2 linked regions of the Homo sapiens genome follow. The protein of the gene in region 1 interacts with the protein of each later gene in a pairwise test. Each region holds a gene or a part of one and is shown on either strand. Other genes may lie near its edges.

The links.
Region 2: the proteins of PRTFDC1 (region 1) and MCMBP interact in binary tests that used the Homo sapiens proteins (3 or more experiments, as listed by UniProt).

The regions. Positions count from the first base shown.
Region 1 is NC_000010.11:24,945,936-24,962,156, reverse strand, and holds the start of PRTFDC1 (phosphoribosyltransferase domain-containing protein 1), read left to right. Parts: upstream 1-9,550; 5' UTR 9,551-9,581; coding exon 9,582-9,629; intron 9,630-9,708; exon of another isoform or gene 9,709-9,793; intron 9,794-16,221. UniProt on the Homo sapiens protein: Has low, barely detectable phosphoribosyltransferase activity (in vitro). Binds GMP, IMP and alpha-D-5-phosphoribosyl 1-pyrophosphate (PRPP). Is not expected to contribute to purine metabolism or GMP salvage.
Region 2 is NC_000010.11:119,830,442-119,846,745, reverse strand, and holds part of MCMBP (mini-chromosome maintenance complex-binding protein), read left to right. Parts: intron 1-3,319; coding exon 3,320-3,492; coding exon of another isoform or gene 3,493-3,498; intron 3,499-4,150; coding exon 4,151-4,274; intron 4,275-5,785; coding exon 5,786-5,903; intron 5,904-8,045; coding exon 8,046-8,211; intron 8,212-9,716; coding exon 9,717-9,850; intron 9,851-11,041; coding exon 11,042-11,206; intron 11,207-14,645; coding exon 14,646-14,734; intron 14,735-15,145; coding exon 15,146-15,272; 3' UTR 15,273-16,304. UniProt on the Homo sapiens protein: Associated component of the MCM complex that acts as a regulator of DNA replication.

The sequences.
Region 1 (16,221 bases):
ATCTACATGATGAAGCTTTTACAGATTGTAGGTTTATTTTTTAAAACTGCTAACTGACCTGTTCATCATTAATAACACAGAACTTCTGACTGACCAGGAATTCCACTACAATAATTCTATTTTAATATTGGGTAAAAGGTTTTGAGCACTCCTTAGGTACTCAGCACTCTGTATACATTATTTTCTTTAATCCTCACAGTAACCCTAAGAAGCAGGAACTGGCATGATCTCCATTGAACAGATACGAAAAATAAAGCAAAGAAAGTAAGAAACTTGCTCACGGTCAAAATCAGGTGGTAGGTGGTGGAGTCTGGTTTTAAAGCTGAGTCTGCCTGAGTTGGAGCCAAAACCCTGAAACACAGCACCATAAACTTTTCATTAGTCTAGGTATTACTTTATGGAGTACAATGATAAAACCACATTGTTTTAAAATAGTGTATAGTAAAGAATGAATCACAAATTCAAACTGACTTTTTTTATTAGTTCCAATTACTACGCTTTTAACATATGTTAGCTAATATTCTTTTCCCTCGAACCTCAAAGTGTTTTCACAGTAAAATTTAATTCACTTTCAGTGAAAAATCTTGTAAGATTTACTGTATTCTTCCATTGAAAAAAAAAGACACTAATATTGTAAGCTAAATTTAGCAAGATATATATCAAGAACCTTAAAATATTTATACTCTCTAACTTAGAAATTCCATTTCTGGAGAGTTTATCCTCTAGAAATAGTTAAAATGCATATAAATGGTTTATTACAAACACATTTATTTATATATTTATACAATCAAAATTTGGAAGTAGTATACTTATACTGGGGAATGGTTAAATAAGTGATGGCATTGCTATTTCAAATGATGTTTATAAGGAGTTTATTATACTATGGAAAAACACTTGTGTTATATGTTTATTTTACTTAGAATGTGAAGCAGAGAAGAAGGGAACAGAACTACAGCCTGTGCATTTAGTCACAACTAGGTAAGATAAACTTTCCAGAATCACAAAACTGGAAGAAGGCACCAAAATATAACACGGTTTTCTATTTTACTTCTGTTTTTCTATATTTTCCAGTTTAAAACAACTTGTACATACTAATTTAAAATGGAAAAATACCTTTGCACTGTCTTTTAAAAAGTTATAAACAGAATGGCTGAAACATAGCAGATTTGACCCTCTATGAGTCAGGTTCAACTTGCCATGGATCCTACAGTCCCAACTGAGGAAGGGAGTGTAGGTAAGAGATGCCTAGTTAGAAAACACAAGGAATGGCAAGGTGTGGTGGCTCATGTCTATAATCCTAGCACTTTGGGAGGCCAAGGCGGGAGGATGGCTTGAGCCCAGGAGTTCGAAACCAGCCTGGGCAACAGAGTGAGACCCTGTCTCCATTAAAAAAAAACAAAAAATAGGCTGGGTGCAGTGCCTCATGCCTGTAATCCTTTGGGAGGATTAGGCGTGGTGAGGGTGCACTTTGGGAGGCTGAGGCAGGTGGATCACTTGAGGTCAGGAGTTCATGACCAGCCTGGCCAACATGGTAAAACCCTGTCTCTATTAAAAATACAAAAATTAGCAGGGTGTAGTGGTGCACGCCTGTAATCCCAGCTTCTCGGGTGGCTGAGGCAGGAGAATCGCTTGAACTCAGGAGGTGGAGGTTGCAGTGAGCTGAGATTGCTCCATGCACTCCAGCCTGAGAAACAGAGCAAGGCTCCATCTCCAAAAAATAAAAATAAAAATAAAATAATAATAATAAAACAAATAAAACACAAGGAACCCAGTTCCTTCAAGTGCAACCCATAGGACTCTTAATGTGAGAGCTGCAATAGATTCCCACTGGGAGAGTTCCTTGAAAGGAACCATGAGCCCAGTATGCCCATACCTTTGTATGACTTTTAATACCACATCCCAGCTCTGCTTCTTGGTTCGCTGGGATATTCCACATGCTGGCAATGTCTAAAAACAAACAATTACCTTTGCAAGCTACCACATGGTCACTGAGAGAGACAAAAGGGAATTGCCGCAATGAGATGGCTTTCATCTCTCTTGCTATTCAGAAGGCTGATTTTGTTCACACATGAGAGAGAGAAAAATGGCAAAAATGGGAAAGGGGGTGGGGGATGGAGGTGGGGGTAGGGAGATGGAAATAAGTTCCTTGTCTTCTAGGAAAACACCAAGTTGCATGTCAATCTGAAGGATAACCCAAATTGCAAATCCAGGATATTTCACAAGATGAGAAAGGCCTTAGCCATTTTCATTTAAATTCCTATTATATATTTTTACGAAGAGAAAATATCTATGCACAATTTGAAAACAGTGTTATATATAAAATATTTAGTCCTTTTAGTGTATCTTTAAGAATATATAAAACCTCTTACTTGGAGAAAACATTAAAAGCATAAATTTAAACATTTCATAATACTGCAATATTTTTAAAACACTTATAAAACACCTTCCAGAAAGGTTTGCATAGACAAAAAAAAAAAGTTTGGGAAACGTTGCATTACATTGCATTTTGCAACAGTCTTCCTGAATATTGGCAGTGCATATTGGCGTACTAAAGACTCCTAGAAGACCTACAACATAGAAGTTGGCTTAACTTTGCTTACTTAATTGTTTCTCAAACCTAATGAATCAAAACGCCATTTTCTTCAAATATAAAGTGGATCAAACTCACAATTAGGGAAGTGTTGCTCTATGTAGATCAGTGTCCAATTTCTTTTACTTTCTCCATCTCTCCCACTCTCAAGCCACATCTCTCAACCTCTTTCCCAAGCTCCTCTCACCTTAACTCTAAGATGCAACCCATAACCTGGCAATCACTGGATCATGTCTTGGGATATTGCCAGTGGCTGTTATACATCAGCTCTGATCTGAAGAGAATCCATGTACAGCTAAGAGAATAAACAGCTCCATTCCCATTCTAGCTGATCGTCTCCCCAGGACACCAGGCAAAGTTGCTGCTGACTAAGGAGGCCCCCCTTTTTTTGTTTTTGTTTTTGAAGTGGACATCTTTCCTTTAGAAACTCAGCACTGGCTGAGGCACCAATTAATTTTGCATAAGCTGCTACAGGACCCTCAGATGCTAATCAGTTTGTTCATAACCACAGAGTATTGTTTTAGGGTCATGTACGTAACTTCTGCCTCCAGCCCTGTGGATTTATTTACTGCTTAGTCCCTAGTTCCTGCAGCTGTGTCCTTTCAATGACTGCTTTATGGTGGCCAAGAGAGTTGAGGTCGACTGCCAGGACTCAGAGATCTGGAGGAACACATGGACACATTATTCTTTTGCTCTGAAGCTATCCAATTCCTGTTCCGGTCAGAAGGGGAGATAGTGGGAGGATATCTCTGAAACTGCCCAGCGCTTACTGCTGATATTCCTCAGGTCTGACATTATTGCAAGAGAACAAACTTAGATCTACCCTCTGTGTGTTCTTCAGTGGAAGGTGAATTACTAACGAAAGTGTAATAATACAAAACACAATTGAGTGTAGCCTTGGCTTTATTTGTAAGACCTACTCTGGAGATATTATTTTCTTTACTCCAAGACTACACATTGGATCCAGTCTGCTTCAAACAAGAGACCGGGAAAGACGGGTTACTATGCTAATTGAATACTAATGAGGCCTTTGCTTAAGTTGGGTTTTGTTGCAATTATTTGCCACTACATTTCTTTTGTATTTATGTAGAGGGAAAAATAAACTACTTCAAAGTTAGCAAGAGTCTTACTTAGCCTGAGCACTTGCAGAAAAAATGTCTTGCTACTCTTTCTTTTGTACTTGTAACATTTGTAAAGAGTTTTGTTCGGCACTATGGAAAAGCAAAATATCATCATCATTATTACTGGCCTTTGTCCACAGTGGATTTCATCCAGATTCTAACCAGTGACTCTGTGACTAACAATCTGAGTCACTAAGTTTCAGATGTTTATGGATTTCAACACAATTCCCAGACTGAAAGGTTTTTTTTTTTAATTTACTTTCATGTTTCAAGACTCAGAAAGAATTAACTGCCTTTCTGTATTTCCAGTCTAGTGCAGAAAGAATTAAATGCCTTTCTGTATTTCCAATCTAGTGTCACTGAGTGACGGGCTAGGAACAATTCAGTGGATAGACTGAACTGTTCCTTCAATTACAGATTTGTATTGACAAAAGTCAATTACCAAAATGTCAAAAAAAAATTAGTATATACTTCCAGGACAAAAGCCTCCAGGCTGGCAGAGAATTCAGTGAATTATAAATATTTGTGTTTTCACCATGGTAGTGGCACAGGATGATTACAGAATTTAAAATGCAGAGAATCACGGTGATGGGAAAACTGAATATCCACATGTGGAAGAATGAAACTAGACCCCTCTTTCTCACCATATACAAAAATCAACTCAAGGCCGGATGCAGTGGCTCATGCCTGTAATCCCAGAACTTTGGCAGGCCGAGGCAGGCAGATCACTTGAGGTCAGGAGTTTGAGACCAGCCTGGCCAATGTGGTGAAACCCCATCTCTACTAAAAGCACAAAAATTAGCCGGGCGTGGTGGTGGGCGCCTGTAATCCCAGCTACTTGGGAGGCTGAGGCAGGACAATCACCTGAATCTGAGATGCGGAGGTTGCAGTGAGCCGAGATAAAACCACTGCACTCCAGCCTGGGCAACAGAGCAAGACTCCGTCTCAAAACAAACAAACAAACAAACAAACAAACAAACATCAACTCAAAATAAAGACTGCCATGTAAAACCTGAGATGATGAAACTGCTAGAAAAAAAACATAGTGGAAACACTTCATGACATTGGTCCAGGCAAGGATTTTTTGGATAAGACCTCAACAAAAAGAATGAAATCCTGTCATTTGCAACAACATGGATGAACCTGGAGGACATTATGTTAAGCAAGAAAAGCCAGAAACAAAAGGCAAATACGACATGATCTCACTTATATGTGGAATTTTAAAAAGTTGATCACATAGAAGTAGAGACTAGAATACTGGTTAGCAGAGTCAGGTGAAAGGTGGGGAGGAGTGGCAGGAGTAGGAGAAGTTGGTTAGTAGGTACTAGGTTATAGTTAGATGAGAGGAATAAGTTCTGGTACACTAACGCAGTAGTCTCAACCTTTTTGGCACCAAAGACCTGTTTTGTGCAAGACAATTTTTCCACGGATTTTGAGGGGGGATGGTTTCAGGATGAAACTGTTCCATCTCAGATCATCCGGCATTAGTTAGGTTCACAGAAGGAGCATGCAACCTAGATCCCTCCCATGTGCGGTTCACCATAGGGTTTGTGCTCCTGTGAGAATCGAATGCGGCTGCTGATCTGACAGGGGCAGAGCTCAGGTGGGAATGCTCGCTGACACTCACCTCCTACAGTGCAGCTCAGTTCCTAACAGGCCACAGGCTGGTACCAGTTTGCAGCCCGGTAGTTGGGGACACCTGCTGTATGGCACAGCAGAATGATATATTTAACAATAATGTGTTGTATATTTCAAATCAGCTAGAAGAGACAATTTTGAATGTTCTCACCACAAAGAAAAGAAAAATGCTTGAGATGATGAGTATGCTAATTACCCTGAGTTGATCATTATGCAATGTATACATGTAGTGGAATATCACACTGTACCCCATAGATAATATGTATAACTATTATGTGTCAGTTAAAAATAAAACTAAAAAAAAAAGTAAGTAAACACAATATAAACACCAAAAAAAAAAAATAAATAAAATGCAGAGAAACTACTGCTAAAATGTAATAAAGAGAATGATAGAAAAATACAAGTATATTGACTGGTTATTAACTTTGCAAAGATGCACATCTTTATTCTTATAGCTCTTTCAAAGGTATATTAGAAAATGGACAGTCTGACCAGGGCCTACTTGAGGGTGGAGGGCGGGAGGAGGGTAAGGATCAAAAAACTATGTATCAGGTGCTATGGTTATTACCTGGGTGATGAAATAATCTGTACACCTAACCCCTGCGACATGCAATTTTCCCAAACAAACCTGCGTGTGTACCCCCAAACCTCAAATAAAAGTTGGAAAGGAAAAAAAAAGAAAAGGAAATGGACAGTCTGAGCTAAAATATCCCTTTTTATGAAAAATCTCATTATTTTAATAATTTTATCATTTTTCTGTATTCATTCTCATACCAGCTCTAGACTATCCCTGGACTATAACTATCCCTGATTGGTCACCTTACGTCAATCTTTTATTATTATTATTATTATTTGTTTGTAGGGACAGGGTCTTGCTCTGTCACCCAGGCTGGAGTGCAGTGGTGCAATTATGACTCAATGCAGCCTCAAACTTCTGGCCTCAAGCAATCTTTCCAGCTCAGCCTCCCCAGTAGCTAGGTCTACAGGTGCCACGCTACCACACCTGGCTAAGTTTTTAATTTTTTATAGTGATGTGGTCTTACAATGTTACCCAGGTTTGGTCTTGAATTCCTGGCCTCAAGTGAGCCTCCTGCTTTGGCCTCCCGAAGTGCTGGTATTACAGGTGTGAGCCATGGTGCCTAGCCCCATCAACCTTAAAAGACAATTCCTTGTCATTTTCACATGGAATAATTTTACAAACATTTGGTCATACATTTTTACAGCATGTCAGGTTAATAATATCTTACAGTTTTATAGCATTTTGCAAAGAATTCTCTTGCATGTTATCTCACATTCATCTCATCATCATATGCAGTAGAGAATAAATGGGTGGCTCCATTTTATGGATGAGAAAATTGATGTATATTACACTGATATAATTGGCTTAGACTCATTGGCTAAAGTAACATGGATTGTTACAGAAAAATAGAGGTCCTAGTCCAAAGCTATTCCACTAGACATGTGATATGGTTTGGCTCTGTGTCCCCACCCAAATCTCATGTTGAATTGTAATTCCCAGTGTTGGGGGAGGGATCTGGTGGGAGGTGATTGGCTCATGGGGGTGGATTTCTCCCATATTGTTCTCGTTATAGTGAGTGAGTTCTCACAAGATCTGATGGTTTAAAAGTATGTGGCACTACACCCTTGCTCTCTCTCTCTCCTGCTCTGCCATGGTAAGACGTGCTTGCTTCCCCTTTGCCTTCTGCCATGATTGTAAATTTCCTGAGGCCTCCCAGCCTTGCTTTCTGTACAGCCTGCAGAACTGTGAGTCAATTAAACCTCTTTTCTTCATAAATTATCCAGGTCTAAGGTAGTTCTTTATACCAATATGAGAACAGACTAATACAACATGTAACAGAAATTTGAGGTTTAAAAAGAATTTTTGCCTCTAAATCCTCATAATGCAAGATTAAGAATAAAGCCTTGGACAGATGAGCTGTTATTTCTGGATACCGGTCTTTGCAAATACTATTTGGGTTATCAAGTATTATTTTGTATTATGTTAATGCTCTCCAAAGTATCGAAGTGTAATCAGACCGCACAAAGTATTATCAAAATATACAAAGATAATAAAATGAATTAGATTTTTAAAAACTATTTACTCATCATTCTGTGCCCTTTATAGGATGACCTATATAAGTCTATGTAGGATGTTCTTGAGCACACATTCATAAGATTCCTGTTGTCTTTCAAGCAAGTTACATTTTTCACTGTGAACTTGTTGGATTTTACGTTTAAACTAATAGCCTTTCTAAGGGAAGAAGATTTATCTACCATTTCCCTTACATCTTCCGCAGTGTCTAGGCTGGAACCAAAGTTGATGCTTTTTGACTTCTGTATGGCAACTACTCCTGTGACATATTTTGAAGTTCCTGGTACCCCCCAATCTGGCCCTGCACCCACACTGAGCCTCATGGCTAAGTTTTGATATCCAAGCAGTAAGATGGTCTAGTGGAATCCCCTAAAGCATGGGTCATGAGCCACCCACATCACACCCATCTGGTGTCTCTCAGCAGGTACAGGATTCTAGGTGCTTCCACAGATCTTCCCCACCCAGTGAAGCTGCATTAACCAGCTCCCCAGGAGAGTCTTGTGAACTCTAAAGTTTGATCATCATCCTAATGATAGCACTTTTCTGCTCCTGGAAATTTTAATGATGTTGCTTGTGAATATGGTTCCTGGGCCTGGTCTTTGAAAATGAAAATAAAAGATGGTGCTTGACTTTGGGGAAAAGAAGTGAGATGCAGACTACAAAAATGGCTCAAAACAACGCCCTCTCACAATTACTAGGAGAAAATGTTTACCCGTGTGCTGAGAAACAACACCCCCCATTTCTGTAAGGCAGTTGCCAAGCAGATGCCTGATTTCAGGGATCTCTGGAGCTGCACCCTCCAAGGCGCTGGCGCTTAGAAACGACATGAAGAGCCAGCCCTGCTGAGCAGGACCAGGGCGCCAAGTCTGAATGACTAATATTTTTCCAACCTAGAACGTCATTAACCGATTGATAACTATTTCCCCTTTAAACTAGGCAAAATCAGCATTCCTCTCCCCTCTGTGTGCCAGAATTCGAAGATGAACAAAAGACGCCTGCATCAGGAAAACTGTGTTAAGTTCTCTTGGATTCAGGGCTTCGACCCGAATTGGGCTGAGTGAATGAAGACGCTGGTGAGATGTCAGGGACCTGGGGAATGAAGACACACCCAGAAAAAGCAGGAACCTACAGGAGTGGACAAAGAACCGGAGCATAGGCATGTGAGAGGGGTTGAAATGAACAACAGACTCATACAAGAAGGATTTCTAATCAGAAAAGAGCGATTGCTTTAGTAAAGCTGCAACCTGGAACAATTACAATCTGACCAGATGTTCTTGCAAAACTGGTAAAGCAGAGAATGTGTAAAAATCTCTCCCCCTCCTCCCCTGAATGCAGTTGACGAAAGGCCGAAAGGCTGGATCCTCAAAGCCCAGATCTGATCACTGCAGATCCGGGCCACCCTAAAAGCAATCGGGTGTAATCTTTCCAGCTCCAGGCCCTGGGATGAGGGAGGTGGGGGAAGGTGGAGAAAGGTGGAGGAAGATGGAGGGAGGTGAGGGGAGGTGGAGGGAGGTGAGGGGAGGTGGAGGGAGATGAGCGGAGGTGGAGAGAGGTGGGTGGCGGCTCCAAGGTTTGAAAACACATCCAGGACACTTCCCATCCTCCAAGAGCACGCTGGCTCACAGGCTCTTTCACGCTTCTGCTTGGGACAATCGCGTGCATGAAATCTGGCAGGGAGGAGTCAAGGAGATTGTTAGCCCGAGGGCTGGGACGGTGGATCTGGGAATCAGGGGCCTGGGGGACACGTTCTCTTCCTGCCGCGGGCTTCCTGCTCCAGAGTCCCCGCGGGGCTTGGCGGCGGGGCCGGGGGCTGCACGCGACCATCCGGCAGGGGGCGGCGGCGACAGCGGCGGCCGCAAGGGACGCGTCCGGGGCCCGCGCTCAGGGGGAGCGGTAGCGGCTTGGCAGCTGCTCCCCGCGCCCCCGCGGCCTAGCCAGGGGAGGGGGCGCAGCGCCGGGGCCATGGATCCGCGTCAGGCCGCTGCTTCCCGCCGGCGGGCCCGGGGCGGGGCGGACCCGTCCCCGTCCCCGTCCCCGTCCCCGTCCCCGTCCCCATCCCCACGTCCCATCCCCCACGCAGCCTTCGCCCTCCCTGCTCCTTCCCGCGCCGTCTTCCCTTCCCGCGTTCCCCGGGAGAAACATGGCCGGGAGCAGCGAGGAGGCGCCAGACTACGGGCGAGGCGTCGTGGTAAATGCAAACTCCCTATTTTGGGGCTCGGCCCGCTCCCCTCCCTCCCTGGCACCCTGCTTGTAGATTAAATGCTTGCCGTGCGTCGGGGGAGAGAGAGGGCCACCGCTTTGTTCTCCCTCCCGGCGGGGATCGCTTCCATCCTCGGACCCGGGCCTCCTCTCCCCGCCCCCAATCTGACGAAACTCTGAGTCCCGTCCCTTCACCCCGAGTTCCCAGCGTCCCCCCGTGTCCTCCGGCCGGTAGCTCGCTCCTGCAGCGTCCCGCCGGCGCCCAGCCGTCCCCATCCCCGCGAGCCACGGGGAGTCGCTTCTGCGAGCCCGGCAGGGCCCCAGAGACCCCCGCGTGCTGCTCTGGAGGCCTCCTTCTTCCTGGGTCTCCTCTTGACTCCTCCAGGGCGGGCTTCAAGTTTTGTTTTTAAAAAGCACACTGAGGGGTTTTGAAGGCAGCTAGGAAATAAAGTAGCTCAAGTGGACAGAGCTTGAGATTTGAAGCCTTTGGTACCCAGGTTGGGGGCTCTCTGGCAGTGGAGGCCTCTGCAGGAGCTCTAGGACACGCTGGCGGCTCCTGAGTGACCTATGGCTTGTCTGTAAAAGGGAGCAACAGCAAGCTGGGCTCTGGAGCCAATTGGGAGGATGCATGTAAAATATCTAGCAGTGTGTCCGGATGGGAGGGTGTGGGGTGCTGGTTTCCCAGAACTGAGCCTCATTAACCCTGAGAATCCTGACGGTGTCAGCCAGAGGGTACCCATCTCTCAGTGTGCTAGGATCCAACCCGTTCTTGACCTTGTGGCCACGTCCTCCCTGCTCCCTGAGAAGTGGTTTTCCTAGAAGGTGGTGGTTATAACTTGTGTCAGGTTCAGTGTGAAACTCAATGGTGGTGAGGATGGTGGGTGGGGCTAACTTGCCATCTCTTTCCAGGGATCAGCTTGTCATTCACAGATAATCTGTTTATGAATATGAATGGCCTGAACTAAAGTAAGTGGGCTGGGGAGGGAAACGTGTCACATTCAGACAGAAGGGTCAGGTTGAAATGTGGGGCTCAGTGCTTAATTTAACAGCAGGACCTTTCCTTCTGAAAGGATGAGGAGTTGATTTATTCATTCCACACGTTTATTGTCCTGCTGGGTTGTAGGAGGTGCTGTAGGCTCTGGGGTGCAAAAGACAAAGGCCTTGTCTTCATGAGCTTGCGTTCTAGAGAAGACATAGGCAAGCAGTGTGTAAACAAATAGAGAAAATTTCAAATAGAGATATGTGCAATAGGAGGAGGGTAACAGGATAGAGGGTAATTGGAGGAGAAGGGGGGAGTGATGCTTTTGCTCAGGTGGTCAGGGCAGCCTCTCTGCGGTGACCTTTGAGCCAAGATCTGAAGGGTACACAGGAGTAGCCATGTGGACTGCAGGCAGAGACCCGCATACCAAATGCAAAAGAATCATTGTATCCGATTTATGCTTTTACAAAAACCATTCCAGTTGCCCCAGGAGGAGGGGCAAGCCTAGCGGTGTGATGGATGGGAGGGGGACTAAAACGCAAAAAGGGCAATCATTAAGTTCATTCTGGACAAATTGAGTTTGTAGTGCCTGTAAGGCCCACAGGTTGGCCTGCACTGTAGGCAATTTGAAATTCACATTTGGAATTCTGGAGAGTGATTGGAGAGATTTGGAAGTCATCAGCAAAAAGAATAATATGTAATGTTCGGGAGTGCTCAGTGAATATGGAAAAAACAATTAAAGCAACTGTTAAGGATGGAAGCCTGGAAAGTCCCAAATATAAGAGGCTGCCTGTGGGGGAGAAGCTGGTTGAAGGAACCGAGAAAGAACTTTGAAGGGTGGGAGGGCAGGCAGCATGGTGGGTGCCTTGGGAATAGAGCATTGTTGAGCAGGAGGGGCGGGGTCAAGAGGTCATCAGAAGTGTCAGATGTTACAGGGACAGCAAGTCGGATACCAAGATGGAAAACAGCCACTGTATTTAACAATTACAAAGCCATTAGTAGGGAGAATCTTTTAAACAACCACTGCATTGGTAGAATGGTTAAAATATAGTACAAGTTGAGCATCCCTAATCCAAAAATCCAAAATCCGAAATGCTCCAAAATCTGAAACTTTCTGAGCACCAACATGATGCTGAAAGGAGATGCTTACTGGAGCATTTTGGATTTCGGATTTTCAGATTAGGGATGCTCAACCAGGAAGTATAATGCAAATATTCCAAAATCCAAAGGAAAAAAAATCTGAAATTGGAAACGCATCTGATCCCAAGCATTTTGGATAAGGGGTACTCAACTTGTACTACCGTAACATACTACATACTTTTAGAAAAGAATAAGGTGAATCTAGATGCACGGATAGAGTAGGTAAATTGTTGAAGTCTAAAAAACAAGTGAGAGAACACTGTAAATAGCCCAGTCTATTGGTGTCAACAGAGGTCCTCTTGGAAGCAAGGTAATTTTTTGAAAGATGCAAAGAGGTAGTGAGAGGGGTATCAAGAGAGTAGAGGGCCAGGTGAGGTGGCTCATACCTGTAATCCCACCACTTTGGGAGGCCGAGGTGGGTGGATCTCCTGAGGTCAGGAGTTCAATAGAATCCTGACCAACATCGTAAAACCTTGCTGCTACTAAAAATACAAAATTAGCTTGGCATGGTAGTGCATGCCTGTAATCACAGCTACTTGGGAGGCAGAAGCAGGAGAATTGCTTGAATCCGGAAGGTGGAGGTTGCAGCAATCCAAGATTGCACCATTGCACTCCAGGCAACAAGAGTGAAACTCCTTCTTAAAAAAAAAAAAAAAAATAAATAAATAAATAAATAAATAAACAAAAAAAATGAGTATAAACTGGACCAGCTGCCAAGGGGCTTGGTGCTTGCATGAGAGCCCACAAAGGTGGGAAATAATCCACATATAATGGAGATAGTCCCTACATTTACATCCTTTTCTCCAGTAGAACTTGGAATAATTAGATTAACCTCAAGTTGGATATAAGCAGGCAACTTCAGAGCGAATCGAAGCTGCTGGTAGAAGGCAGCTCATGGCATGTAAGGCAGGAGGGAAGGGAGAGCTGGAGAGGATGAGTTTACTGGGAGAATAGAAAGCTCTCAAGGATGGGATACAAAAAATCAAATTAGTACCAGTTTTAAAAAGGGGCAGGTGGCTGGGAGTGGTGGCTCACACCTGTAATCCCAGCACTTTGGGAGGCTGAGAGAGCAAATCACTTGAGCCCAGGAGTTCGAGACCAGCCTGGGCAGCCAACCCTCTCTCTACAAAAAATACAAAACTTAGCCAGGCATGGTGGTGCATGCCTGTAGTCCCAGCTACCGGGGAGGCTGAGGTGGGAGAAGCACCTGAGCCCAGGAAGTCAAGGCTGCAGTGAGCCATGATCGTGCCACTGCATTCCAGCCTGGGTGTCAGAGTGAGACCCCATCTGAAAAAAGGGGCAGAGGGCAGGTAATAATAGCAAGCATTTCTTGAGCACAAATCTGTAAGGGAGGTCTAGTGTGCTCCCCATTTTACAGAAGAGGAAACTGAGGCACTGAGAGATTAAGTAAATCACCCAGGTCGCATAAGTAGCAAATGGCAGAAGCGGGATTTGAACCAGCTTTCAATCACTATACTACATAGCAAGCTGTGATTCCAGGATGGAATTTCAGGGTTGGGGCCATCTGTAGGACTGGTCTGGCTATGTGAATGTATTGCTAAATGGGGAATAAAGATGTGATTTGAGTTAAGAATGTAGTTTGAGCTAAGGCTGGTGAAGGAGCTACAAGATGAAGTCGTTGGAAAGATCGTTGAGGTAGGCATTGGAGTAAATCAGCCAAGGAATTGTCCAGGAATGAGGTAGAGAAGAAAATTCCGAGTTGGTAGAAATCTGTTGATAAAGATGGCAAGGGATGTAGAGTCAGATGATATAAATATAAAACGAGAAGTAAAGTTTGTGCAAGAGAAGGGAATATTAAGAGATTTAAGATGGCTCTTGCCTATAAATTGGCTTTTGGTTGAACTGGGGAGGTAGGACATTTATACCATTAACAATAAATGGTAGCAAATGCTAATTGCCACATAAGAGAGGTAGATCCTAAGGTCAGAAATTTTGCTCAGAGTTGGCTTGTCACTTGATCTGGAGCTAATACAGTCACCAGATTCCTGGTTGATACCTCTTTGTTACTTCTCAGGGAGAGATAAAGATCTTCTCTATCCACCTGGCTTTTGGGGATCGGGTTATTAGACATGTTTTTGTTTGTTTGTTTTTGTCTGGTTTGGTTTTGCCAAATGATTATCAACTGAGCTATTATTAGTACTTACCTAAGTGAGTTTGGTAGGAATCAGGAGAAGAGAGAAATCAGAAATGATTGTTGTGTTTCTGTTATGGCTGGCTTCCTGTCACCCCCCATGAAAATACGGCAGTATCAGAGATAAGTAATCAGGTAATATCAGAGATAAGTAATCCATCGAAAGCACAGCTCTACTAGGTGGTAATGAGTTTTCCTTCTGTGGGGCAAACCCACCACAGAAGAGGAAGGCATGTGGATAGGAGGTGGTTGGCCTGTCGAGCTTCCTTCATTCCTCTGTGAGCAGAACCTGGGAATCTTTTAGCAAACCACTTGTCCCCACTTTTCAAGATGTATGGTTGTGAGGTGGGGCCCTTCCCAGGGTACCTCCTTCCCTGGCTCTAGGGCTAGGACAGGAATCCCAGAATTCCTGTCTGGGATTCTTTGAATTAGAGTGAAGGGATGAGACCCCCTTTCTCTTGCTGGTGGAGGACAGATGAGAGCTATGGCCTGAAGGAGAGAACAGGGCCAATCTGTGGAGCTCAGCAGGGGAGAGGAGCAGAGATTAGCTTCTTGTATGTGTTTTCTCCCTTAGGGAGAAAAATGATGCAAAAAATAGTCTAAGCACAAAAAAAATTATTTTTAATGACTTACAAAGTTTTCAGTGCATCTTCAGTGCGAAAAAGAGAATCAGAATTACTTCTGGGATTTGGATGTTGCATAAAATGACTCACTTAATGGGTTTGTCACTTCCCCCAGCTTGGCTATGTTTTGCTGTTTTGAACAGAGAAAGCATTGTACTGAATACACTTAGAGCATATTATCTGTGATACTGAAACTATCTACAGACTCTGGTTTTGATTTTTTAAAAAGCAAGTGAATAACAGTTATCTACAGTTCATAGCAACCTCCATTCCTGCAGGTTTTGATTTATTTACAACACGATTTGCATGCACCATTGAAGTTAGCAAAGCATAAACCAGTATTTCCATCGTCTTGAATCGACTTTCATCTCAACAATGAAAACTCACTATTTAAGATTAATTGAAAATAATGGCCAATTTGGATTATAGAACAGTTTTAGAGAAATATATTTCTTCTACTTTTATACTTTTTGTTTTGTTTTCTTGAGACAATCTCACTTTGCTACCCAGGCTGGAGGGCAGTGATGCGATCATGGCTTACTACAGCCTTGACCTCCTAGACTCAAGCCATCCTCCTGCCTCAGCTTCCCAAGTAGCTGAAACTACAGGCACACGCCATCACACCAGAACAATTTTTTTTTTTATTTTTTGTAGAGATGGGTTCTCATTATATTACCCAGGCTGGTCTCACACTCTTGGGCTCAAGTGATCCTCCCACTTCAGCCTCCCAAAGTGTTGGGATTACAGGCATGAGCCAATGTGCCAGGCCTCAAATGTATAGTTTTAACTAAGATAATAACACTGGCATATAGGTTTGAGGCACTTCTTTAGATGAATTAAAACATATAATTTGTTGTTAAATGATTGATGTTTCAGTTCATCTAAATGATTAGCATTTATTGCATAAGTACTGTAGACCAGAAACTGATATGAGTCTTACATTCATTATCTTATTTAATGCTCACCATAGCCATATGAGGCAGGCACTAACTCCATTTCATAGATGAATACACTAAGAGAATTTAATATGCCCAAGGTCTCATGGCTGGCAGGCTTGTCCCAGGTGTGTGAGATTTCCATGTCCATGCTCTTAACACACTACTCTGTGTGGCCTCTGGGCTATGGATCCATATTACAGTTTATAGGTTTGTTTCATTTGTGATTTTCTTATCATTTTTTTCCTATTTTTGGCATTCATTTTTGGCACTTTTAGTCTGTTTCCTTTTTTTGGCATTATGCGTCAAACATCATGTATTATACACCATGCAGTGTTCCAGGTATTCTAAGTACATTATCCTTATAATAACCCTATCCATAGGTTTTACTGTGTCTTATTTAAAGCAAGGGGAAACTGGATCTCAGAGACAGTAAGTCATCTCCCTAACATCACAGTAGTAAGTGTCAGAGCCAAACTCTTGAACATGGAGTGGAGAGTATGCTCCAAGATTCAACCAGAACGGGGGCAGTAAAGGATTGATGTGGTTGGAGGAATGGATTCAGAAGACCACTAGTTAATGGTGCCACTGGTGGAGGAGCTCCAGAAAGTGGGGTAGATAGTACATGTGGTCTGGAAGGTGATCCAGAAAGTGCTGTACACCTGGATGATCCCCCTGGGGCCTGGGGCCAGTCAGGGTTCTCCTGGTCTGGTCTTTACTGTGGCCTGCCAGAGGCTCTCCTAGAATCTCCT
Region 2 (16,304 bases), about 95 Mb from region 1:
GCCAGTTACCAGTTACTTGTTTCCTCATGGTTAGACTCAATGTTTTGCATTTTTGGCAGGAATATTACAGAATTGATGTATCCTCAGTATGTTACAGCAGGAGGCATGCGATGTCAGTTTGTCCCTTTACTGGTGAGGTTAATTTTCATTAGTTGGTTAAGGTGGTGACTTCCAGATGTCTCTTCTGTAAAGTTACATTTCTCACTTTGTAATTGACAAGTAACTTGGAGGAAGGTACTTGGGGACATAAATATCCAGTTTCTCATTAAACTTTCACCAATTTATTTTAGCATTCATTGATGATTCTTGCTTGAATCAGTTATTACTTTGTTGGCAATTTTCTAACGCAGTACATTTATTTATTGGCATTCTACTATAAAAGATACCTCTTCCATTTGTTTATTCAAGTAATGTATTTACTTATATTTAGTATAGACTAATAGATTCTGATTTTATTCAATGTTAATATCATTATTTTATTTCGAGACCCAAATTTTCCCAGATTTGGCTAGTGGGAGCCACTTTAAGCAGGTGCCGGGTCCTTTTTTTGAGATGATGTTATCATTTTTTAACATTTATTTTCTGGCATATTAAGCTGTTGCAGCTTCATCGTATGCTTTGAAGATCTGAGTCCTAGATGTGCTCGTTGGTACTGGATTAGATTTGCATCTAGGCCCTTAAAGTAGACAGAGCTAGGATACATGCAGCATATGGATACATATATACGCACCCACATTTAAATGCACACATACACACTCACATGCATGTTTTGTGTATTTCTAATGTCTGTGAAAAACCATGGGTTCATATTTCTGATTCCAGTTCAGCACAGCAGGAGTCACATGTTCTAGTTGTTCTCCTTTCTATATTTATGACTTCTTTTTCTAACAAATTTGATTCCCATTATTCACAATCTGTTGTTTCCCCATTTCTACCATATACAGAAGGGAATTTCAGAATTGGTAACCCATACCACTACAAAACAGAAACCTAGTAATTAGAGTTCAATACATTTCCAGTTCATTTTTATTTTAGAATGCAGCTGTGTAGTCAGAGCTATGTTCCACTTACTCAGGTAACTTTTCTTCCCCTTCAGTGTGATTTCATTATTTATTTTACTTAGAAAGATTCTCAGAGGTGTCATTCTCGGCTATCCCCATTCCTGCTGTCTGTTCCCACCCAGCCTCCTTAGGGAACCACAGTTTCTGGTTTATCCTTCCTGTATTTATTTTTTTACAAAAATATGAAGATACGTATACATTTTATTTCTACCTTTTTCTTCTATAAAAGGTAACATGGTATATATACTCTTACACTTTTTAATTTTTTTTATTAACAACATATCTTGGAAATCTAGACCTTCCTCATTCATTTTTGTTTTGTTTTGAGATTGCCAAAAGCAAGGGCTGATGTCCCTCATCTACACCAGAGTCCTCTTGTTGAATACCGGACATTAATCATCTTAGTTTCTGTGTAGGATGAACTTAACATTTTTCACAGTTAAAAAAAAATGGTACAAAACAAAAATTTTAAACAACTTTAAATAAGCTTAACCGTCCCTTAATAATAGTATATGAGATTGTTCATCTTGGCAATTTCTGATTGTGATGACTTTCCTGCTTTAGTTACTTCACTATTGATGTAGTTTAGTTTAGAGGTTGTATTAGGGGTCTCTAAAGGGTCAGAACTGATAGGATAGATGAATATATGAAGGGGAGTTTATTAGGAGAATGACTCACATGATCACAAGGTAAAATCCCACAATAGGCTGGGGAGCAAGGAAGCCAGCCTGAGTCCCAAAATCTCAAAAGTAGGGAAGCCACCAGTGTAGGCTTCAGTCCGTGGCTGAAGGCCTAAGAGCTCCTGGTGAACCACTGGTGTAGGTCCAAGAGTCCAAAAGCTGAAGAACTTGGAGTCTGATGTTTGAGGGCAGGAAGCATCCAGCATGAGAGAAAGGTGGAGGCGGAAGACTCAGCCAGTCTGCTCTTTACATGCCTGCCTTTATGCTGGCAGCTGATTAGATGCTGCCCACCCAGACTGAGGGTGGGTCTGCCTCTCCCAGCCCGCTGACTCAAATGTTAATCTCCTTTGGCAACACCCTCACAGACACATCCAGGAACAATAATTTTCATCCTTCAATCCAGTCAGATTGACAAAGTATTAACCATCACAGAGGTTAAGAGCACAGACAGGCAGGCAGCCTGGGTTGGAGTCCTGACTTGGCCACTTACTAGCTATGTCACCTTGGGCTTGGTTTCCTCATTGTAAATAAGGGTAGATGTGAGGTTTTGGTGAATTTGTACGTGTAAGGCATTGAACGTTGTCTGTCACATGGTACGTACTATGGAAAAGGTTATTATGCTTGTATTAAAAAATACAGGAGTATGAATTTATTACTTCAGTGTCTATAGATTCTATAAAGTCAAGATCTAAAAGATTAGCTATTTGTTTTGGTCGTCTCACAAATCTATCATCTGCAGATTTATTTAGCAAGTCTGAAAAATTCATACTTTCATTGCTTGTCTACTCAGTCTTCGAGGGATCATGTAAGAATTAAATTTAGGAAAAACAATTAGCAAGATAAGAGATGAATGGATTCTCCACACGCTGAATAATAGATACCAGATGGCTTTTGAGAAAAAGACCCCAGTTTTTGAGATCTGCTGTCAAGTATTCGATGTCCCGGCCAATAGTTCAAGGAGTACCTGTGTTTTGAAATAGCCTTATGAGTGACATCCTACATTCCATTTATTGAAGTGCTGAATAACAAATATTATTGTTTCTGGCCAGGCATGGTGGCTCACGCCTGTAATCCCAGCACTTTGAGAGGCCAAGGCAGGCAGATCACTTGAGGTCAGGAGTTCGAGACCAGCCTGGCCAACATAGTGAAACCCTGTCTCTACTAAAAATACAAAAATTAGCCAGGCATGGTGGTGTGCACCTGTAATCTCAGCTACTCAGGAGGCTGAGGCATGAGAATCGCTTGAACCCAGGAGGCAGAGGTTGCAATGAGCCAAGATCGCATCACTGCACTCCAGCCTGGGCAACACAGTGAGACTCCATCCAAAAAAAAAATAAAAATAAAAATACCGTTCTTGAAAAATTGAATAAATGCATTATTTCATGATATGTCTTAACAAGCCTGAAGTCTGTGTGATGTAACACTTTAGAATGAGAGGCCACTTTCTGTTCTTTAAGGAGATGTACAGGTGGAAATATTCTTGGCTTTAACTCTAATTTTGTTTTCCAAGATGCACATTATTTTTGCATCTGTGCAATTGATGTCTCTCTAAATTGAAACTTTATCACCTCTCCACAGGGATGCCTCTGCACTGCTGGATCCGATGGAGTGCACAGACACAGCAGAGGAGCAGAGAGTACACAGTCCTCCTGCTTCATTAGTGCCGAGAATTCATGTGATCTTAGCCCAGAAGTTGCAACACATCAACCCATTATTGCCTGCCTGCCTTAACAAAGAGGAGAGCAAAACCTGTAAGTGTAAGTGTTACAGCCTAGTCAACTATCGACTGTTAGCCTCAGTGTGTCCAGAGCTGCCTGTAACGTGCTCATAGTGGAATTGAGAGTCAGGTCTTCATTCCTCACAATAAGTGTTTTCAGTAATCTCTCTCTCGTTGCCCCATTTTTCTCTTACATTAATTCTCTTCACTGAAATGAGGACAAAAGAGTATACAAGGCTGGGTGCAGTGGCTCACGCCTGTAATCTTAGCACTTTAGGAGGCCAAGGTGGGTGGATCACCTGAGGTCAGGAGTTCGAGACTAGCCTGGCCAATATAGTGAAACCCTGGCTCTACTAAAAATACAAAATTAGCCAGGTGTGGTGGCGTGTGCCTGTAATCCCAGCTACTCGGGAGGCTGAGGCAGGAGAACTGGAGGCAGAGGTTGCGGTGAGCTGAGATGGCACCATTGCACTCCAGGCTAGGCAAAAAGAGCAAAACTTGGTCTCAAAAAAAAAAAAAAGGAGGATGCAAACTGCCTTATTTTTAAGATTAGCATCACTTACTGACGGATATGTTAAGCTTTACCTACTGTCGACTGAATTGTGCTTTGCTCACGTAGTTATTTTTTTACCTAAGACACTTGAGAGGAACTGGAGTGTGTGTCCTGACTCAGGTCTTCCTTTCTCCTTCAGTTGTTTCAAGTTTCATGTCCGAATTGTCTCCAGTCAGAGCAGAACTTCTTGGGTTCCTTACTCATGCCCTTCTGGGGGATAGTTTGGCTGCTGAATACCTTATATTACATCTCATCTCCACAGTGTAAGTGCTGTATCCTGGTGGGAATTAGGGGAGTTTGGTGTGTGTGGAAGTGGAAGAGCGGGAAGATTGCTGGTGTCATTTGTGTGTTTTCCTTATTGGGCTTCATCACATGGTTTTTATCTGTCCAGTGTTAACTGTTATACCAAATCACAGACAAATTCCTTTTCTCACAGTTCACATTTAGCATTTTGATTATGTCCCCTTAAATTTTAGAGCCAAAATCAGATAAAGCAGTGGTCCCCAACCTTTTAGGCACCAAGGACCCATTTCATGGAAGACCATTTTTCCATGGACCGGAGTGGGGATGGTTTCAGTATGAAACCGTTCCACCTCAGAACATCAGGCATTAGTTAGATTCTCATAGGGAACACACAGATGTGCAGTTCACAATAGGGTTCGCGCTCCTGTGAGAGTCTGATGCCACTGCTGATCTGACAGGAGGCGGAACTCAGGCGGTAATGCCCACTCATCCACCCCTCACCTCCTATGTTGTGGCCCGGTTCCTAACAGGCCATGAACCAGTACTGGTCCACGGCCTGGGCGTTGGGGACCCCTGAGATAAAGGACCTGGCTGATGAGTAAAATGAGCTGTTTTATCCCTTTTGCATTCTGAACGCTCTGTTTATACATCCCAAGGCGCCCACGTCATGTGCACGTTTAACGTGGACATTGACACTAGCACCGCATCCCTTGACTCCACTGTATTTCTTTGTTTCTCATTTTAAAACTAGTGTGGGCCTTTGACAAGTTCCAAGAACATAAGGAGGAAAATGCACATCATCTGTAATTTCACCACTTAGAACCTCCGTTAACCTTTAGGTACATGTTCATTGGTTTTTGTTTACATATGTATACATCCTTGCATAGGTCTTAGTTACACTCTAAGCACAGATGCGTGTCTTGTTTTCAGCAGTTGATATATATTAAACATTTTCCCATCATAATGCTTCATGAACTTTGTAGTGGCTGCAAAGTATTTCACTATGCAGTTGTACCATACTGTAACCATTTCCCTAAATGTTAGCTTTTCCTAGCTTTTCTCTATTATAAAGTTGCAGGAAACATCTTTGTGCTGTAAATCTTATCTTTTCTCAAATCAGTCTGTGACAGTAGTACATAATGGTTGAGAGCACAGGCTCTGGAACCAAACTACCCGGATTCATATCCCAGCTCTGTCAGCTTCCATTTAGATGAACATGTTGCTTATTATCATCTCTGTGCCTCGGATTTCTCATCTGTGAAGCAAAGACAACAGCACCTACCGCTGAATGGTTAGGGGTTAAATGAGGAAGCATTTACATACTCAGAACGGTCTTTGGCACGTGACCAGCAGCACTTACGTACAAATATTGGCTATTACTTTTATTGCTGTTATTCTGATAAAATAACTGGTCAGAATATTCTGGTTTATTTTTAATGACAATATTAAGCTAATTTTTCTATTCTTCGCTATTTGATAGAAATCAGGAAGTCACTTCAGCATCTTATTGATTGATTTCTTTCTTTTCTAGATATACAAGAAGAGATGTCCTTCCACTAGGAAAATTTACAGTTAACTTGAGTGGTTGCCCACGGAATAGTACCTTCACAGAACACTTGTATCGAATTATTCAACATCTTGTTCCAGCAGTAAGATGAATATAAATATGTATTATAAACCTAAGCACACTTAAAAAATCCATCTAACTGTCTTTCATTCACTTCAAATATTTAACTTAGAGATTTTAATAGATCTTATTTAAGGGGAAACAAAGCCTGCCAAATTACATAATTTAAAATGTACGTTCCCCTAAACATTTCACTTTTTTTTGTCTTTTTGCCTAAGCACAAATTTCTGTAAGTCTAACAAAACAATTGTAGTAACTCCCTTAAAATTACACTCTCTTGATACCAATTTGTCCAATTTGGTATCCTTTTTGTACACTAAAGTCTTAAATCTAAATAAACTCTAAATTGTAGGAGCATAATTCTTTTAGTTGAGGTAATAAAGTTCTTTATCTCCATTGCCTCAATTTTAATTCCTGTTTGGAAAGTTGAGCTCACTTTATTTGCCAGGGTATCTGGAATGCAGTATTTGCGTGGTGGTAGGATCTTGGGAACAGGGGAATTGCTTCTGATTAGTTGTGTGACTGAAAATACTGATCACTTCTTTGGAAATTGAAGAGGGTGCACTAGATCTTTATTGAACCGAATGTATTCAGTGTCTCAGTGCTAACACTCGTCCAGGCCCTCAAGAAGCAGAAGTGGACTGGAATATACCAGCAGTTCTCAGTCTCCTTAGACTCACTTTACACTCTGAAAAATGTGTTCATACTCAAAGAGCTGTTTTTCACGTTATGATTATATTTATCATTAATTTACCAAACTAGAAGATAAAGTAAATACACCTATTAAAAATAAAAAATTACATATAAATATTTTTATAAAAACAACTTTTCCCAAGCCAAAAATGATTAGTGATAAAGGTGACATTGTTTTACATTCTTGCAAATCTCTTCAATGTCTGGATTAATAGGAGACAATGGATGCTTGTATCTGCTTCTGCCTTCAGTCTATTGTAGTCTCAGGTTTTGGTTGAAGTATATGAAGGAAAGCTGGCCTCACACAGATGGAAAAGTAGATGGTAAAGGAAGGATGGTTTCGATAGCCTTTGCAGATAACTGGGTGGTGGTCTTTGATACTAGACCAAAACTGTCCACATGAGATTTTCTTAAAGATAGTTAAGTGTGGAATCTGAAATCCTATTCGTAAACTTTCCATAGTCTGCTATGGTAAAATTCATTAGTCTCGCACATTGAAAGGATCTTTTATCCATGCATGATTTTGACCTGATTGACCCTGTAAAAGGGTTTAAGCAATTCCCTGGGGGTTCTCGGGACCACATTTTGAGAATTATTGAAACAGATCCTTTGCCCTCACAGAGTTTAGGTAGAAGACCAACAAATAAATTAATACATGGTAGGTCATTTAAGCACCCCTAAGCTCCCCGTTTTCTTAGAATCACTGAGGTAATACACAAAACTCCTCTAAATTTTCGCAATATATCTTACCTCTTCCTTGACAGCCTTCCCCCACCATACCCTCTTCTCCATCCCTGCCACATTGTTTGAGGCTGGAGGGATGGAAGAATGGATTGGTGTATAAGGCAGAGCACAGAGGGTGTTGGGAATGGTGGCTCAAGAGCTGGAGGAGGAGCATAGATGGTTCGCTTACTCGTTAAACACTGAGTGAGAAGGTGCTCGCGTCCTGGAGGCACCTCCTGAGAGCTGCAGGTCCATCCACAGCTCAGTGTGCTCTGCTCCTTGATTTTTCTCTGAAAAGTTTGTTCAAAAATGTCTATGATAAATGAATACAATTTTAACTCAAAGAATATAGAGGAAAATTAAGCTTTTCTCTCCCTGTCTTGAAGAGTAAAATTAACATTTTCTTTTTGCTAGCTAGCTTGTGTTAGGTGAAAGAGGTTAGGTTTTGGGGTATTTAATATTTATATGTCAGTTATCTACCATTTGTTTCATTGGTTAAATTAAAATTGATTTTCAAGAATATTGAACAAGACATTTGAGAATAAAGTAGCTCATAAAATGGATGAAATTCAAATGTAAGATCTAGATACTATTTTTGCTTCTGGAGTTCAAGAAACCATATCACTACTCCCTTAGAAATTTATAAGATCACTTTTTCCATATGAAACACAATGTTTAATTCCAAGTACATATTTTCTTAAAACAGGGAAACTTAAATTCTTGTTCACTAAAAAATTTCTCTTTGCAGTCTTTTCGTCTGCAGATGACTATAGAGAACATGAACCATTTGAAATTCATTCCCCACAAAGACTACACAGCCAATCGCTTGGTCAGTGGGCTCCTCCAGCTGCCCAGCAATACTTCCCTTGTAATCGATGAGACTCTCCTGGAACAGGGGCAGCTGGATACCCCAGGTACGTACATAGATGTTTCTCTTCCATTTCTGACTTCCTTCGCACTAAAGCCAGATCTAGGAATAACTTTTAGAAGAGTATCTATGGACAAATTCACATTTAACAACGTAAGATAAAGGCTTGGCATATGAATTTGATTAAAGCATATGTTATAAACTAATTATATACACCAACTATGTTTTGCCATAGTATTCTGAAAGTAGTACAATGGAACAGATATATATCTTATATAATATATCTTATATAATATATATCATATATAATATATAATGTCTCATTTAATATATATCATATATTATATATTTTATATATTATATAATGGAGCAATAATATAAAGGGTAGTATTAGTATAATGGAGCAGTAATATAAAGGGTAGTATTAGATGTTGAGGGTCGTAAGGGTTCTTTGGTGAAAAGTTTTATTGTGTCAGCGAATGGTTGGAGCAGTCTTTATGGGCCTACAGTGTTGGGTTCTTTTGCGTAGTTGTATATAACCTAAAATTTTTTTTTCAGTGAGTGTAAGGAATGGTAGAGACAGGGTCTCGCTATGTTGCCCAGCTGATCTTGAATTCCTGGGCTCAAGTGATCCTCCTGCCTTGGCCTCCCACAGTGCTGGGATTACAGGTGTGAGCCACTGCACCTGCCCCAAATAGCTTTTTAAAAAGCTGAAATGGGAGGAAGCTTTGCCTTTAGTCATCTAATACCTCAAAAGGGAAGTGTAGAAAAGATCTAATATAATTTTTTTTTTGTTTTGAGACGGAGTCTTGCTCTGTCGCCCAGGCTGGAGTGCAGTGGCCAATCTTGGCTCACTGCAACCTCCAACTCCCGGGTTCACACCATTCTCCTGCCTCAGCCTCCCGAGTAGCTGGGACTACAGGCACCCGCCATCACGCCTGGCTAATTATGTTTTAACCTCCCGTTGTAAAGTTTGTAAATGGTTTTCAGAGAATGTCTGAGAAATAATAGATCAAATGGTTTGCACTAACCTCAGTTGCGGAATATATTATAAAATCACAAGAAAGCAGATTGTTTACCAGTGCTCAAATGAAGACAATTAAGAATACACTGCTGGCGATCAGCTCAAGAGGTAAAGGTAGAAGAAAAAATGAGGTAGACTGGGCATGTTTAAGGCAAAGGGGAATATAAAATCTGTAAAATTCACTAGGCTGATCTATGTATGACGGTAGTTTTAGTGTTTCCTTGGTTTAGCCCTGTAAATACACCACTTAGAAATAATCATACTTGGGAACTATTTTATGTCTAGGTGCATACCAGATGCTAGGTATTAGATTTGCGGGGGTATCGCCTGCCCCCAGAAAGTTCTACCTTGACCAAGACTGTTGTAAGCCTACACACTTAGTGACGTTTAGCTTAGTAAACTGGACAGCGCCTCATACCCTTTATTAAAAGTGGTAGAAACTTCATGGCTCATCATCGGTGTCAGCAAAACTGATGTGTTTAGATGATTAAAGTCAAATGACTGAAAGTGTTTTCCTGCCTTTGTAGGTGTTCATAATGTGACAGCCCTGAGCAACCTCATAACGTGGCAGAAGGTGGATTATGACTTCAGCTACCATCAGATGGAATTCCCCTGCAATATTAACGTTTTCATTACTTCGGAGGGGAGGTCACTCCTCCCGGTATGATGAGTCATTTTTAAATGGAGGGAGGTTGACATTGGAAAAATACCTACATTTTTGCTGTTTCTTGGTACCGCTTATTAATAAGTTACATTTGTTGTAAAAAAAAAAAAAAAAAAAAAAAAAAAAAAAAAAAAACTGTGACTGCTGATCATTAAGGGAATTGAGTATTTTGCACTGCCATGGATGAAAACCTTACATCTACCAAGCTCAGGTATCAGCAAGTCATGAGACCAGCAAGGCTGTTGGCAGCAGAAACACCCACATCTGAGCATAGCGAGATTGCCTGATTTTAACATCCAGACTTCTGTTCTTGCTACCTTTGACCCATTGTTTTCTGCTAATCTTATGTGAAAAATATTTCAGAGTTCTTTTAAAATGTCCTTGGTCACTTGGTAGTTATTTTCATGCTTTGTGGTGAAATGCTCTGGTATGTCTTCAGAGTGGCTGGTAAAGAGAGCTTTTAATTCTGTGGATGATGGGAAATGCTCCCAGTTGTCAAATGGTGTGTAGTCTCTGAATAATAGTATTCACCTGCGATTGATGAGAAACCGCCTTTGACTAAGAATGAAATGGCTCAAGGATATGTTTTCTGTGTGCAAGTATTGATAGACCTTTTTAATTAGCTGCTTTTTAGAGGTTGGCTACATTTTTGTGTGCTTACTGATACCATTGAGGAAACATAAGTAACCAAGAAAAAGCTTTCATAATTATTTCTGAGGTAGTTATAAAGCATGTAAATTAATATTAAAAATAGATGCTCACTGGCTGCGGTGGCTCACGCCTGTAATCCTAGCACTTTGGGAGGCCAAGGCAGGTGGATTGCGTGAGCCCAGAACTTTGAGGCCAGCCTGGACAACATGACGAAACTTGTCTCTACAAAAAATCCAAAATTAGTCAGGCATGGTGGCGTGCACCTGTGGTCCCACTACTGAGGAGGCTGAGGTGGGAGGATCACTTGAGCCTGGGAAGCAGGTTGCAGTGAGCTGCAATCACACCACTGCACTCCAGCCTGGGTGACAGGACAAAACCCTGTCTCACACACAGAAAAAAAAACATTATTCCCTCCCCCTAAATAATAAGTGGTATTTTCTAATTCCCATAGGGGCTGACAGAGATGATGCATCTTTCTTTAAAAATGTAGATTAATTTAGGAACTCAGAAAATACAGTGTACTCCTTCTCTTTTCAGGCAGACTGCCAGATTCACTTACAGCCCCAGCTAATTCCACCAAACATGGAGGAGTACATGAACAGCCTTCTCTCAGCGGTGCTGCCTTCCGTGCTGAACAAATTCCGCATTTATCTAACTCTTTTGAGATTCTTGGAATATAGCATATCTGATGAAATAACCAAGGTATGTCTAGGTTAAAATAAAGGATTTCCCTGTGTTGAATTGCAGTATGCAACCAATTTACATTTACCATAATTACTGATAAGGTAATTTTGTTATTTGTTTTCTGTCATGTCTTTTTTTATTCCTCTGTTACTCCATTATTGTCTTTTTGTTTGAAATAGGTATTTTCCAGTGTCCCATTTTAATCCCTTGAAGTTTCTTAAAGTTATTTTCTTAGTAGTTGTCTTTGGGGGATAAACTTAACATGTTAGTATAATCATCTATTAGGGATTAATGCCAGTTTGTTTAGTTATTTTTAATTTAAAAAAAATTTGTGTGGCTAATGCCATTTTAATTATATTATACAAAGACTTTGCCCCTTTATAATTCCGTTCCTTCTCCTCTCCCTTGTGCTCCTGTCATACAATTACCTCTCAGTACATTGTATGTCCATCAACACATTTAGAATTACTGCTTTTGCAGTTGTCTTTTAGAGAAAAAAGTTAGAAATGGAAAAGACTTCTGTACTATTTTTTCTATTTGCCTATGCAATCACTTTTACCAGCACCCTTTATTTCCTCATGTGGGTTCATGTTACTGTCTAGTATCTTTTCATTTCAGCCTGAAGAACTGTCTTTAGTGTTTCTTGCATGGCAGGTCTACTTGTGCAAATTCTTTTTTTTTTTTTTTTTTTTTTTTGAGACAGGGTCTCGCTGTGTCATCCAGGCTAGAGTGCAGTGTTGTGATCATGGCTCACTGCAGCCTCAACCCCCCCAGGTTCAAGCGATCCTCCCACTTCAGCCTCCTGAGTAGTTGGGACCACAGGCATGTGCCACTGTGCCCAGCTAATTCTTTGTTTTTTGGGTTTTTTTGTTTTGTTTGGGTGTGTGTGTGTGTTTGTGTGTGTGCAGATAGGGGATCTCTTTATGTTGCCCAGGCTAGTCTCGAACTCCTGGGTTCAAGTGATCCTCTCTCCTTAGCCTCCCGAAATTCTGGAATTAGAGGTGTGAGCTACCTCGCCCAGCCCTCTTTTAAGTTTTTGTTTATCTGGGAATGTCTTAATTTCTCCTTAAGGCTAGTTTTGCTGGATGTAGAATTCTTGGTTTATAGTCTTTGTCTCATCATTTCGAATATGTCCTCCCACCACTTTCTGGCCTCTGGTTTCTACTGAGAAGCCAACTAGTTTCTGATAAGGATCCTTTGTACACACTGAGTCATTTTTCTGTCACTGCTTTCAAGATTTTGTGGCTTTTGACAGTTTCGATTATGATGTGTCTATGTGTGGATCTCTGAGTTTATCCTACATGGAGTTTGTTGAGCTTCTTGGAGGTGCAGAATAATTCATATTTTGGGGAAGTTTTCAACAAGTTTGGGAAGGTTTTGGCCATGTTTCTTTCTGCCTCATTTCTCTCTGCTCTCCTTCTGACACTACCACTGTGTATCTGATGTTGCATTTAATGGTATCCCACAGGTCTTCAAGGCTCTGTTCATTTTCCCTCATTCTTCTTTTTTTGTTCTGTTTCTTAGACTAATCTCAGTGAACTTATCTTCAAATTTAGTGATTTTCTTCTGCCTGATCAAATCTGAGCACCTCTAGAGAATTTTTACTATATTTTTCAACTCCAGAATTTTTATTTCCTTCTTCTAAAAAATTATTTCTCTCTTTTTATTGATACTCTCTATTTGGTGATTCTCATATTTTCCTGAAGTTCTTTTTATGTGGTTTCCTTTATTTCTTTGAATGTTTAAAATAGCCAATTTAGAGTCTTTTTGTCTAATGTTTGAGTTTCCTCTGGGACAGTTTTCTACTGACTCCCTTATCCCCAAAGTGTGAGCCATACCTTCTGGTTTCTTTGTACTTTTTTGTTGAAAACCAGACATTTTATTTGGTCAGTGGGGTCTCACTGTATCACCCAGGCTGGAATAGTAAGTAGCACAGCCACAGCTCACTGCAGCCTTAAACTGCTGGGCTCAAGTGATCCTCTTGCCTCAGTAGCTGGGACCATAGGTGTGCACCACCATGCCCAACTAAAGTTTTGTTTTTTTGTTTTTTCTTTTCTTTTTTTTTCTTTCTTTTTTTTTTTGTAGTGATGAGGTCTTGCTTTATTGCCTAGGCTGGTCAACTCCTGGCTTCAAGTAGTCCTCCCACCTTGGCCTCCCAATGTGTTGGGATTACAGGTGTAAGCCACCACATCTAGCCACAACCAGACATTTTAAATTATATAATATGGCAACTCTGCTTTGGAAGTTACTCTGGAAATTAAACCTCCCTAGGGTTTATTGTTGTTGCTGTTTGTTACTGTTGGTAGGTTGTTTAGTAACTTTTTTGACTAATTCTATAAAGTCTGTATCTTTGTCACATGTGGGCACTGAAGTCTCTGCTCTGTTAGTTTTGTGGTTAATGATTGGAAAGAAATTTCCTTAAATGCTGGGTAGTAGTCTCCCAGTCTACGGGTGAATAATAATCATAAATAAAAATAAAAGTTGGGGCAAGCCCTCAGTTCAACACTTAGCCATGCAATTTACAAGCCTTAGCCTTCATTTCCTGCTCGCACAGAGCCTCCAGGTCATGCAGAGGTGGGAGCTATGGTCTCTGAGCATGTCTGCAGCCTTCTGAGTTCCTAGGAGTTACATACTTAAGGTTTTCAGAGCCCTCTACAGACATGTCATTTCCCAGCTAGCTTTTCCATTGAAGGGTTTGGGTTAGTCTGTCTGCCGCAGCTGTTACCCAGTGTCTCAGGTAGCTAAGGTGATTGGTAATTTCTTCCGATTGTTTTTGATAAATGCCCTGGGGAAAGAGGTGGTTCATAGTAGACAGGCTTCCAGTCAGGTTAAATAAAGACAACCTTGCAAATGGGTCCTTCCAGGGAGCCACCAGACAGGTGGTCAGATGACAGTTCTCCGGGAATGGCACTTGGAAGGAGCCCTAGCCCTGTTCTCTCTCCGGTGGCTGCCAGGCTGTTGATTTTTGAAGCTACTAATTATCGCCTGGAGGGGAAGGGGTTGGAATTTAGGAGTAGGACATGTTAAAATGCTGCCAGGCTCAACATTCTTACCAATAATCACCTGGTTTTCTTGCATAAATGCTCTCTGGATTGCTGCAAGTATGGTTTTATTTCTAGTTTTTAAAAAGCTGATTTTGATCAGTGTTAACAGTAGAGACAGTTTTCTGCGGTCCCTTCTCTGCCATTTTCACTAACATCACTCTTCCTTTGTGGAAAAGCATTGTTTCCTATGCCAGTTGCTGATTTATATGTTTGCTTGACCTTAAATGAATCTGAGTTTCATTATTTTATTTTCATCAGCAGCATTATGTATGTATATGCTTTGGTACTTTCACCCATATTGCCTCCTTTGTCTAAGAGGCTGACATGCACCTTACTACATCAGTCAAGGAACCATGTTAATTTTCTTTTCCTTACAAAAATGCACATCATTTACATTTACTCTTTTGATAAAGGCAGTTGAAGATGACTTTGTGGAAATGCGGAAGAACGACCCTCAGAGCATCACTGCTGATGATCTTCACCAGCTGCTCGTGGTGGCTCGGTAAGTGGCGCACGTCCATTATTGCTGTTTCGGTAAGCTTGTGTATATGTCTTCTGAGTTATTCAGCAGTAACTGAGGCAGAATTCTAAAAACGGAAATGAACTTTTCCTTTTAAAAACGCTGTATGAAAGGGCTCATTGAGGGGGAATCGAGTTTGGCTGGTGATCTCTTCAGTGGAACAGGCATGCTGCTTGTTCTCTAAGCTTCAAAGAGTGAGCCACTTTCCAATTCTGACTCTTCAACGATTTCTTTTTAGAAGCCTAACTTGGCTGTTGACTTGTGTGTAACTACCATACGGTCTTGTCTCCTAACGTGCTCTGTGTTTTCACAAAGTATTCCTAGGTCTTAAAAAAAATTTAAAACTTACTATCCCAGCTCTAGACTTAAATTTGTTTCTGTGTTTCAAACCAGGTGTCTGTCTCTCAGTGCTGGTCAGACAACGCTGTCAAGAGAACGATGGCTGAGAGCAAAGCAGCTAGAGTCTTTAAGAAGAACGAGGCTTCAGCAGCAAAAATGTGTGAATGGAAATGAACTTTAAAGATGTAATACCTATGAAGAGTAATGGGCAAACTGTAGCCACATAATTGTAAAATTCAGATATTCATTTATACCACATTGTTTTATAGGTAATTTCTATCACAAACCAGTGACATTTCCTGAAATCAAGCCTGGTAACACCTGATGTTTATATGATATTCAGTAAGGACTTTTACCTTACTGATTTCATGGAGCTTTTGAAGTTTGTTTTATAATAATTATATAAATTAGTAATGATGTAAAAAAAGTATTTGATATTAAAAGTTTAATATTGATAATGTTGCTGATTGTACCATTTCCTTAGCTTCAGCTGAGTCATAGGCCAGACTGTTGAAATGCTGAAATGAAGAAGGTTGTTGCAGTTTCAAAGTCAGAGGAATCGTGCTTCGGATTTCTTATGTTTTCTAGTTCTCTGTTTTTCCAGTTCACAGTGGGTTGGGGTGCATTCAGTAGTCCATCTTTGGGGAACGGAGGCGTACTTGCCATTGATTCACATGACTACATGAAATTCTGTACTGTCATTTCCCAGATGTTTGGCCACAGAAACTTTTTCCCACTTAACATTTGTTAACAGCCTGCAAAACTAAACTTGTACATGGCAGTGGTTCCCAGACTTTTGTATTTTATGGACCGGTAGTAATATTTCCAAAAATCTGGGGTACTATAAGGTTGCCAATTTACCTTGCCAAGTAATCCGAATAAATCACTGTATTATCACCATTTTTTTCATAAAAGGAAAGGACAATCTATCTCTGAATAAGAGGAGTCCTTTAAACGGAATGAATGTGGCTTTTGGGGGCAAAAGAAACCAAGACACTACATTGTCTTTATTTTCTCCTATCCCAGTGCATTTGAGAACCATGCATAAGGGAATGCTGTGCTACAAAGCTGTGCCCAAATATGAAAACAAAATAGGAAACTTAAAAAGCAATACCCCCTTTAGAAAGTTTTTATTTTCTTAAATGTCATTGAGTTGCTTTGATTCTATTGGATTTTTGGCATTTTTTATGGGATCATCAGTTGGTTCCAAGTA